Regions from separate parts of the Homo sapiens genome. Here region 2 is linked to region 1. The links come from fine-mapping of genetic effects on gene expression. A gene starts in region 1. The other region holds a variant in brackets. All regions are shown on one strand. Distances are between the middles of the regions.

Region 1 (4,395 bases):
TCACTTAGAATAATAGTCTCTAATCTCATCCAGGTCATTGCAAATGCTGTTAATTTATTTCTTTTCATGGCTGAGTAGTATCCCATCATCATATATATCAGAGTTTCTTTATCACCTCGTTGATTGATGGGCATTTGGGTTGGTTCCACAATTTTGCTACTGTGAATTGTGCTGCTGTAAACATGCATGTGCAAGTATATTTTTTGAATCATGACTTCTTTTCCTCTGGGTAGATACCCAGTAGTGGCATTGCTACATCAAATGGTAGTTCTACTTTTAGTCCTTTAAGGAATCTCCACACTGTTTTCCATAGTGGCTGTACTAGTTTACATTCCCACCAGCAGTGCAGAAGTGTTCCCTGATCACTGCATCCATGCCAACATCTGTTTTTTGATTCTTTGATTATGGTCATTCTTACAGGGGTAAGGTGGTATCACTTTGTGGTTTTGAGTTGCATTTCCCTGATCATTATTGATGTTGAGCATTTTCTCATATGTTTGTTGGCCATTTGTATATCTTCTTTTGAGAATTTTCTATTTGTGTCCGTAGCCCATAAAAGTGGCATTTTTAATACCAAAGTTTAGGAAAATCAATGATGCTTTATGGCTAAATCTTTAACTGTATCAAGACCCATTCTTTAAGCCTGGCGCAAATCAGTGCTATGGTGGAGATGATAGGTTTAAAATGTCTATGCTTATCTTTGAGGAGAAAAGTACTGTATCTCATGTAATTTAATATATCATAGTAAACTATAGAAGGCAGTTGAAGCCTATTATAGTAAATTTTTGCATGTGTATTTCAATATACCAAACTTTCAGTTTGTTGTTACAAAATAACATATAAATAGGTTTCTGGAGCTGGATGGGCACGGTGGCTCACACCTGTAATCCCAGCACTTTGGGAGGCCAAGGTGGGCGGATCATGAGGTCAGGAGTTTGCGACCAGCCTGGCCAACATGGCGAAACCCTGTCTCTACTAAAAAATACAAAAATTAGGCTGGATGCAGTGGCTCAAATCTGTAATCCCAGCACTTTGGGAGGCAGAGGCGGGCAGATCACCTGAGGTCAGGAGTTCGAGACCAGCCTGGGCAACGTGGTGAAACCCCATCTCTACTAAAAATACAAAAAAATTAGCCGGCTGTGGTGGCGTGCACCTGTAATCCCAGCTACTCGGGAGGCTGAGGCAGGAGAATGGATTGAACCCAGGAGGCGAAGGTTGCAGTGAGCCAAGATCGTGCCACTGTATTCCTGCCTGGGTGACAAGAGTGAAATTCTGTCTCAAAAAAAAAAAAAAAAAAATGCCTGGAAAACTCATTACAGAAGTTTCCACTGTAGTAAAATTTGTTGAAATAAGTTGCACTCAATCATGTAAAAATGTGGCTCCTTGGGACTATCTGAACGGAATGTTGTAAGTGAAACACCCTCACCATAGTCACTATCCTGTTATCAAGAATTCTGGATCTTAAGGAAGTGCTTGTTTTGTCAAAAATGTGACACTAAGACTTTTCACCCCTATAGAAAAACCTCAACCCTGGCCTGGCGTGGTGTCCCACCCCTGTGATCCCAGCACTTTGGGAGGCCGAGGCCGGTGGATTACTTGAGGTCAGGAGTTCAAGACCAGCCCGGGCAACATGGTGAAACCCCGTCTGCACTAAAAACACAAAAATTATCTGGGCTTGGTGGCCTGTGGCTGTAATCCCAGCTATTCGTGAGGCTGAGGCTAGAGAATCGCTTGAACCCAGGAGGCGGAGGTTGCAGTGAGCTGAGATCGCGCCATTGCACTCCAGCCTGGGCGACAGAGTGAGACTCCGTCTAAAACAACAACAAGCAACAACAACAACAAACTTCAATTATGTTTGGAAAGAAGTGCTAATTTAATTTGGCAAAGATGAAGACAGCAGTCATAAAGCAAAACATTCGGTCTCAGGTTGGGTGGATTCCCACCTAGTTGACGAGGCCAGCTGCAGATTCAGGTGGGATCACCTGATGATCTTTATCAATGCCATTTCTTTCTCTGGATCCTTATTACTGACATTAGCAAGGGCTTTCAGCTGCCCAGAAGATGTTCTTTGCAGACATTTGCTCTCCCGGGCTGCCAGCAGGCTTTACAAATTTAAAACTTTCAGTGTAGGAACCCAGCCTCCGTCGTCCTTCCCCTCCAAAGTTAAGAGATCTGCTCTAAGGGTTCCTGAGGGGTGGTCTGGGGCCATGGGAACAGGATCAAGGCCCCCTGAGCGCCGGGCCTGGCTTCTGTGGCTTCGCAAACTTTTCAGCCTGTGTGCCACGGCGACGCGCAGCGGCTGAGTCGGAGCCCACGCGGCGCGCGCCTCCCGCGAGGAACTTTTCGGCTTGTAGGCTGCTTGTCACTCTCGCTTTCCGACGCGCCTCCCCCTGGCTCGCGCTCCCGGAGTTCCCTCCCCTCCTGGCGAGGACCTTTCCCGGCGCCCGCGGCTCCGATCCCCGCCGCGCTGCGCCCGCTCTCCCGGCCCCGGCTGCCCCGCTGAGGGCTCCCCTCTCCCAGGCACCGCAGCCGCGCCCCCGCGTCCCGCCTCCCGAGCGGCTCGCTTCGCCCGATGCCCCGGCCCCGTCCCGCGCACTGAGCGCCTGGCAGCAGGGCGCCGAGTCCCGGGGCGCTGCGGGGCGCTGCGCCGAGAACGGCCGGGCCTGAGCCCTGGGCGGCCCCCAGAGCCGATCAGAGCGCGGGGAGGCGGGGGCGAGGAGGAGGGGACCCGCCGCCGGGGGCTGGCTGCTTCGCTCCGAGCCGACTTTTCGCCAATGGTCCAAAGGGACATGTCCAAGTCGCCTCCCACAGCGGCGGCGGCGGTGGCGCAGGAGATCCAGATGGAACTGCTAGAGAACGTGGCTCCCGCGGGGGCGCTCGGAGCCGCCGCACAGGTAGCGAGAGCGCGGCGCCTTCTCCTTCCTTTGTGAGCCGCCGGGCAGGGCACCGACCTCGGGTTCTCCCGGCGCCTCCACTGCAGGGATCTCTAGCCTCGCACCTCCTCCCCTCGTCGCCTGCCCACCCTCTGCTCCTCTCCTGGCGCCGGGGACCCTGCCCCTTTGCGCCTTTTCCTGGCTCTGCCTCGGCTTCCATTTTTCTCTGCTTCCGAAAAGCCAGTGGGGAAGGGCGGGGGAGACCTGCCAGTCCTCCCAGACTTCTCCCGGGTTGCTCCAGCTGGCCCTCCTCGCCCCTTCCCGGGAGAGGCACATGGAGAGACATGAATCAGGGGAGTGGACTGGACCTGCTGAAGATCGTGAGTCCGGGTGGGCGGGAGGGGGCCCGCTTCCCGCAGCGCTTTCTACGATGCCGACTCTCCTGGCCACGCTCCGAGCCGGGGTGGGCGTGGGTGTGAGGATGATGGGGTGCAGGTGGGCAGGAGGGGAGCGAATATGGGGGTGCCCTGCCGGATCCCCCCAGAGCTGCCCGGACCACGCTGCGCACCTGGGGCTGACAGCTCTCCAGTCCCCTCGGGCACTTGCCAAGGTTTGCCTGTCCCACCTCATGCCTTTCCCTTAAGAAGCGAGTGAGCTGGGGACAAGAAAGTTTTTATTTTTCCGTCTCCCCTGAAATGTTAGCCATTTCAGGGATCTCCAGGATCCCCTTTCTCTCCGTTGAGTGTTTGCGGTTTCTGGAAAAAGTCAGCTTCGCTGCAGGTTGTTGTGAAATTGGAGATGTCAGTTGTAGGCGCTGGGCAATGACAAGGTGGTTTTTACGTTTTTACGTAAGGCTTCAGCAGGTACAGTTTGGGTTACAGACACCTCCAGGTCTCAGCGATGAGGAGTCGCTCAACTTTTCTCCCGGCAGGGAAATGACTTCAGACTCCTAGCTGCGGGCTGGCTGTTGGCTGGCCAGTGATGTGAAGAGGTCTTGGTTACATTTCAGGCAGCATTCTGGAGAAATGTCTGTTTGCTTAACTGTGTTGGCTTGTTGATTTCAAGCCTACATTTGCCAGATTTTAATTTGCGGTAAGATATATATGTGTGTGTATATATACTTATATATTAATACGTAGACACACATACACACACTAGAGAGCATGTTAGAGTATCATTTGCTGTAGTAGTGGGGGCAGGAGTGTGACAAGCTAATAAAGGTGGCAAATGTTTTCTTGCTGTTGTTTTGATAGGTGGAACATGAGTGCTCTAGATATTTTGATATTGTAATCATGGCAGTTCCAAGTGGCATAGTAGTCTAGCTTTATTGAACTTTCTTTTACCATTGGGAAATTAATGTGCTAACTTAAAACACATAATTCACTTTGACTTGAGAAGGGGAAGAATGTGGACACCAAGGACTTGTGTAATCAGAAATCTATTTCTTTTGTAGTGGTAAAACAGCTAGATTTTGGTCCACCCTGGGCTGTTTGCTTCACAAGCCGAGTAGGGACATGTAATG
Region 2 (4,395 bases), 170 kb after region 1:
AAGCAGGTGATTCCGGGAGGTTAATGGACTGAAGACACTGCAGAGGGTTAGAGATCATGGGAAAAGCTAAGTGTAGGTTTATTTTAAAAGAAGCAGCAGATAGGGTGAAAATATAAAAGGTTGTGATCTGAGAAAAGTGTCTAGATTTGAGGTCCTTGGGTTAAAATAATATGGGTTAAAGGCAAGAGGCGGTAAGGATGATGTCTGTCAGTTCCTGGTTAGGAAGTGAAAGTTCCTCTAGAAGAGGAAAGACAAGGTCCAAGGGTAAAGGCAGGATTTTGTATTTCACATCCTGATTATGGCAGAGAAAATGGTGGAGAAAAAAAAAATAAGCTAGGTGAAATCGTGTTTAAAAAACCAGAGGAATACCTCAAAAGTTGGTAAATAAATGCCATTCTTTTAGGGCCGGTCACGTGGCTCCCGCTTGTAATTCCAGCACTTTGGGAGGCCATGGCGGGCAGATCACGAGGCCTGAAGTTTGAGACCAGCCTAGTCAACTTAGTGAAACCCTGTCTCTACTAAAAATACCAACATTAGCCAGGCGTGGTGGCACACGCCTGTAGTCCCAGCTACTCGGGAGGCTGAGGCAGGAGAATCACTTGAACCTGAAAGGTGGAGGTTGTGGCGAGCCGAGATTGCACCACTGCACTCCAACCTGGGCAACAGAGCAGGACTCTGTCTCACATAAATAAATATAAATGCGATGCTTTTTCCTTCATGGCATTTATTATATGTAACAATTGTTTGTTTTTTAATCCCCACTTCCCTACTAAATTGAAGGCAGACTATATTTTATCTATTTTGTTCATACCAAGTTCCCAGCACAGTGATGGCTTATAAAGGAGACATGTCCAATAAATATTTGTTGCATGAATTAAAAGACAGAACCAAGGATGGGAAAGTGAACATATAATTTGATGCCACAGACTTAAAAAGATGTGAGGTCACTGAATAAAATAAATAGGAAATGTTCTGGCAATGGAACAAAGGAGCTTATCTCTTAATAAAAATAGAAAAACATAAAAATGTTCAAATCAATGATAATGAAAGAAATATAATTAATTCAAACATTTGCTTACCCTGCAGAAGGCAAGAAAGAAGAAGGTGCTTTCATTTTTCTGCGAGTAGCATGTGTGTATTACACTGCTTCAGTCAGAGAAATTAAAAGGTAGGATAACTTAAGTCTAAAATAATATATGCCAACTTTTTTTTTTTTTTTTTTTTTTTTTTTGAGGTAGAGTCTTGCTCCGTCACCCTGGGCTGGAGTACAGTGGTGTGATCTTGGCTCACTGCAACCTCCACCTCCCAGGTTCAAGCGATTCTCCTATCTCAGCCTCCTGAGCAGCTACGATTACAGGCACCCGCCACCATGCCAGGCTAATTTTTGTATTTTTGGTAGAGTCCGGGTTTCGCCATGTTGGCCAGGCTAGTCTCGAACTCCTGGCCTGAAGTGATCCGCCTGCCTTGGCCTCCCAAATTGCTGGGATTATAGGCGTGAACCACCACGCCCAAGCTTTACCAACATTTTCTTTTTAAAAATGTTCACGTTCAGGGGTACATGTGCAGGTTTGCTGTATAGGGAAGGATTGCTATCACAGGGATTAGATGTACAGATTATTTCCGTCATCCACGTAATAAGCATAGTGCCCTCTAGGCGATTTTTCAATCCTCACTCTCCTCCCGCCCTCCGCTCTCCAGGGGACCCTGGTGTCTGTGTTCCCATTGTAGTGTCCTACAGCAAAATTTTCTATTCTTCACATTTCTTGAAAGATCATTGTAAAATGGCAAGTATATTTTAAAATGGCAATGCTGTAAAAGCACTCACAGTGATTTCTTGGGTTACCACTCAGCTTCCCCACAAGGTCACTTTCATGAGATCTGGCTCTTGG[G/A]GTCAGAATGAATTGTAGGTTGGATACGCATCAGCCTGCCAAAAACAACCCCAAGTGTGCCAAGTATGGGAGCCAGCAACGTTACAGAAGGCATACGGTATGCCTGACACCTTTGGCTCTTGGCAAAATGAGCCAAGGGTATGACTTGACAACTTTTTTGGGTGAACAAGTTGTCCCTTTTGTATCAAATGTCATCAGCTCACTGATGTGTATTTGCTGATGTCAGCCAGAAAATGAAGCACTTGCAAAAAATGCAATTTTAAAGCAGTCATATTTGAATACTAACTTCCACTGATTCTCATTTGGGTTTGGAAGCAATGCACAATTGCCCTTAAAATAGAAAAAAAAAACTTATTCCTCGGAAGTGATGCTGTCCTTCTCCCCTCGTCGTTACCAATTTTTTCACTAAAATGAATATTGTCAACAATGAAGTAAAAGTGAAGCTGTCATTTGATATGTTTCTGAAATTTTAAAATATTGAATGGTTATTTTCAGACTAAATATGTTATCTTATTTTTTATATGTTTAAAGGTAGCAGGAAAAGTGACTCTTGTATTTATGACGGGAGAAAGAGGGGACAATTCAGAAACAGAGAGGGAGACCAATAGAGTCAAAAATGTCTCCAACAGTTACATAAGCACCAGACTGCCAAGAATTTTTACACTGAAGCCGGAGCTTGACTGGGAAGTAGAGGTACACATCACATGAGAACACAGGTGGTTGGGTCGGGGCTGCATGGTGCAGTTCAGGTCTTCAACAGGGTAGACTCTTCAGAAAATGTGGATTTTTCTTTTTTCCTTTTTTTAGTTTAGTGGAGCCTCGCTCTGTCGCCAGGCTGGAGTGCAATGGTGCGATCTCGGCTCACTGCAACCTCTGCCTCCCGGGTTCAAGCGATTCTCCTGACTCAGCCTCCCAAGTAGCTGGGATTACAGTCCCGCGCCACCATGCCCAGCTAATTTTTGTATTTTTAGTAGAGACAGCGTTTCACCATGTTGGCCAGGCTGGTCTCAAATCTCCTGACCTTATGATCCACCCGCCTCAGCCTCCCAAAGTGCTGGGATTACAGGTGTGAGCCACCTCGCCCAGCCCAGAAAATGTGGGTTTTATTTGATCTGGTGTATTTCTGTTTGTTTCAGAATAGATGTCCGGATAAACAGTCACCTGAGAATGAGGAAGGTGTGTGTTTTCAAACCTGCACATAATAAAAAGACTATTGATAAGATTATTAGAATGGAGATAGAAAACTAATTTTAAAATTAACATTATTTTGCCATTTAGAAATGAATAAAGTTATTTCTGATACCAGTTATTTGAAGAAATATCATCAGAGGACTTAATTTATATATCCAACTAAAAATGATGGCAGTGCTGCTGTTTCTAAGCTGTGTGTAAATACTCAGTTACAGTTTCTTAATTTGGTCTCAAATAGATTTTTTTTTTCAACTTGCGTGCTACAGGTTTATTTTTCTGTTGTATTTTCAGCAATGTTTTAAAACTCATTCTTTGAAATTCTAAAATTTGTCAATTAAGATTGGGTTTCGTAGTTCTTAACATCTTTTATCCTCTCTAAAATTAAGTCTACTTTGATGGTAATAATTAGGTTTACTGTGTTGATAAACTAAGGAAAGCATACAATTTAAAAAAGTGATTTTTTAGGCTGGGCGTGGTGGCTCACGCCCGTAATCCCAACACTTTGGGAGGCTGAGGTGGGCGGGTCACCTGAGGTTGGGAGTTCGAGACCAGCCTGACCAACATGGAGAAACCCCATCTCCACTAAAAATACAAAATTAGCTGGGCGTGGTGGTGGATGCCTGTAATCCCAGCTACTCAGGAGGCTGAGGCAGGAGAATCAGTTGAACCCAGGAGGCGGAGTTTGTGGTGAGCCAAGATCATGCCATTGCACTCCAGCCTGGGCAATAATAGCAAAACTCCATCTCAAAAAAAAAAAAAAAAAAAAAAAGTAAAAAAAAAAAGAAAATTATAAAGAAAAGAAACCCACCCACTGGGTTCGAGCAATTCTCCTGCCTCAGCCTCCCTAGTAGCTGGGATTACAGGCATGCGCCACCATGCCTGGCTAATTTTTTTTGTATTTTTAGTATAGATGGGGTTTCACCACATTGGCCAGGGTGGTCTCGAACTCCTGACCTCAAGTCATCCACCCACCTTGTCCTCCCAAAGTGCTGGTATTACAGACCTGAGCCACTGTGCCCGGACTGTTTTCTTTCATTTTCTGTTTTGGTTTACAAACCTCCACTTTAGTCTTCAAATACATTCATTTTATTAATTATGCTGACCATTGAATTTTTTTATGCTGGCAAGTATATTTTAATTTCCAAGGACATTTCATTGCCTCATCAGTACTTTTTCATAGCTTTTTGTTCTTGTTTTATAAATGCAATAATCTCTTGACTCTCTCTGAAGATACCAATTTGGATTTTCTGCTTGTTTAAGTTTGCTTAAGTTCCTTGTATTTTTGTTTCCCTGAAATTGGTTTATCTGCTTATTT

Which allele goes with the higher level. Alleles are on the strand shown, and positions count from the first base shown. SD is a standard deviation of normalised expression in the study named.
For the expression in skeletal muscle of the gene that starts at base 2,462 in region 1, A is the high allele of the variant in region 2 and G is the other (large effect, 0.84 SD a copy in GTEx).

What was found. PIP is the estimated chance that this variant, and not a neighbour inherited with it, causes the effect.
Region 2: its variant is fine-mapped to the expression of CACNB2 in skeletal muscle (GTEx, PIP above 0.99). The same link has a PIP of 0.9 or more in thyroid.

Annotation. Positions count from the first base shown.
Region 1 is chr10:18,137,963-18,142,357 of GRCh38, forward strand. CACNB2 (calcium voltage-gated channel auxiliary subunit beta 2) reads left to right here and starts at 2,462. Exons shown (of 14, transcript NM_201596.3): 1 at 2,462-2,894. The coding sequence starts at 2,775.
Region 2 is chr10:18,306,780-18,311,174 of GRCh38, forward strand. All of the region lies in intron 2 of CACNB2 (calcium voltage-gated channel auxiliary subunit beta 2), which reads left to right. Among named protein-coding and RNA genes, the nearest start is that of CACNB2-AS2, 47 kb to the left of the region's middle. The variant G/A (reference allele first, on the strand shown) is at 1,890.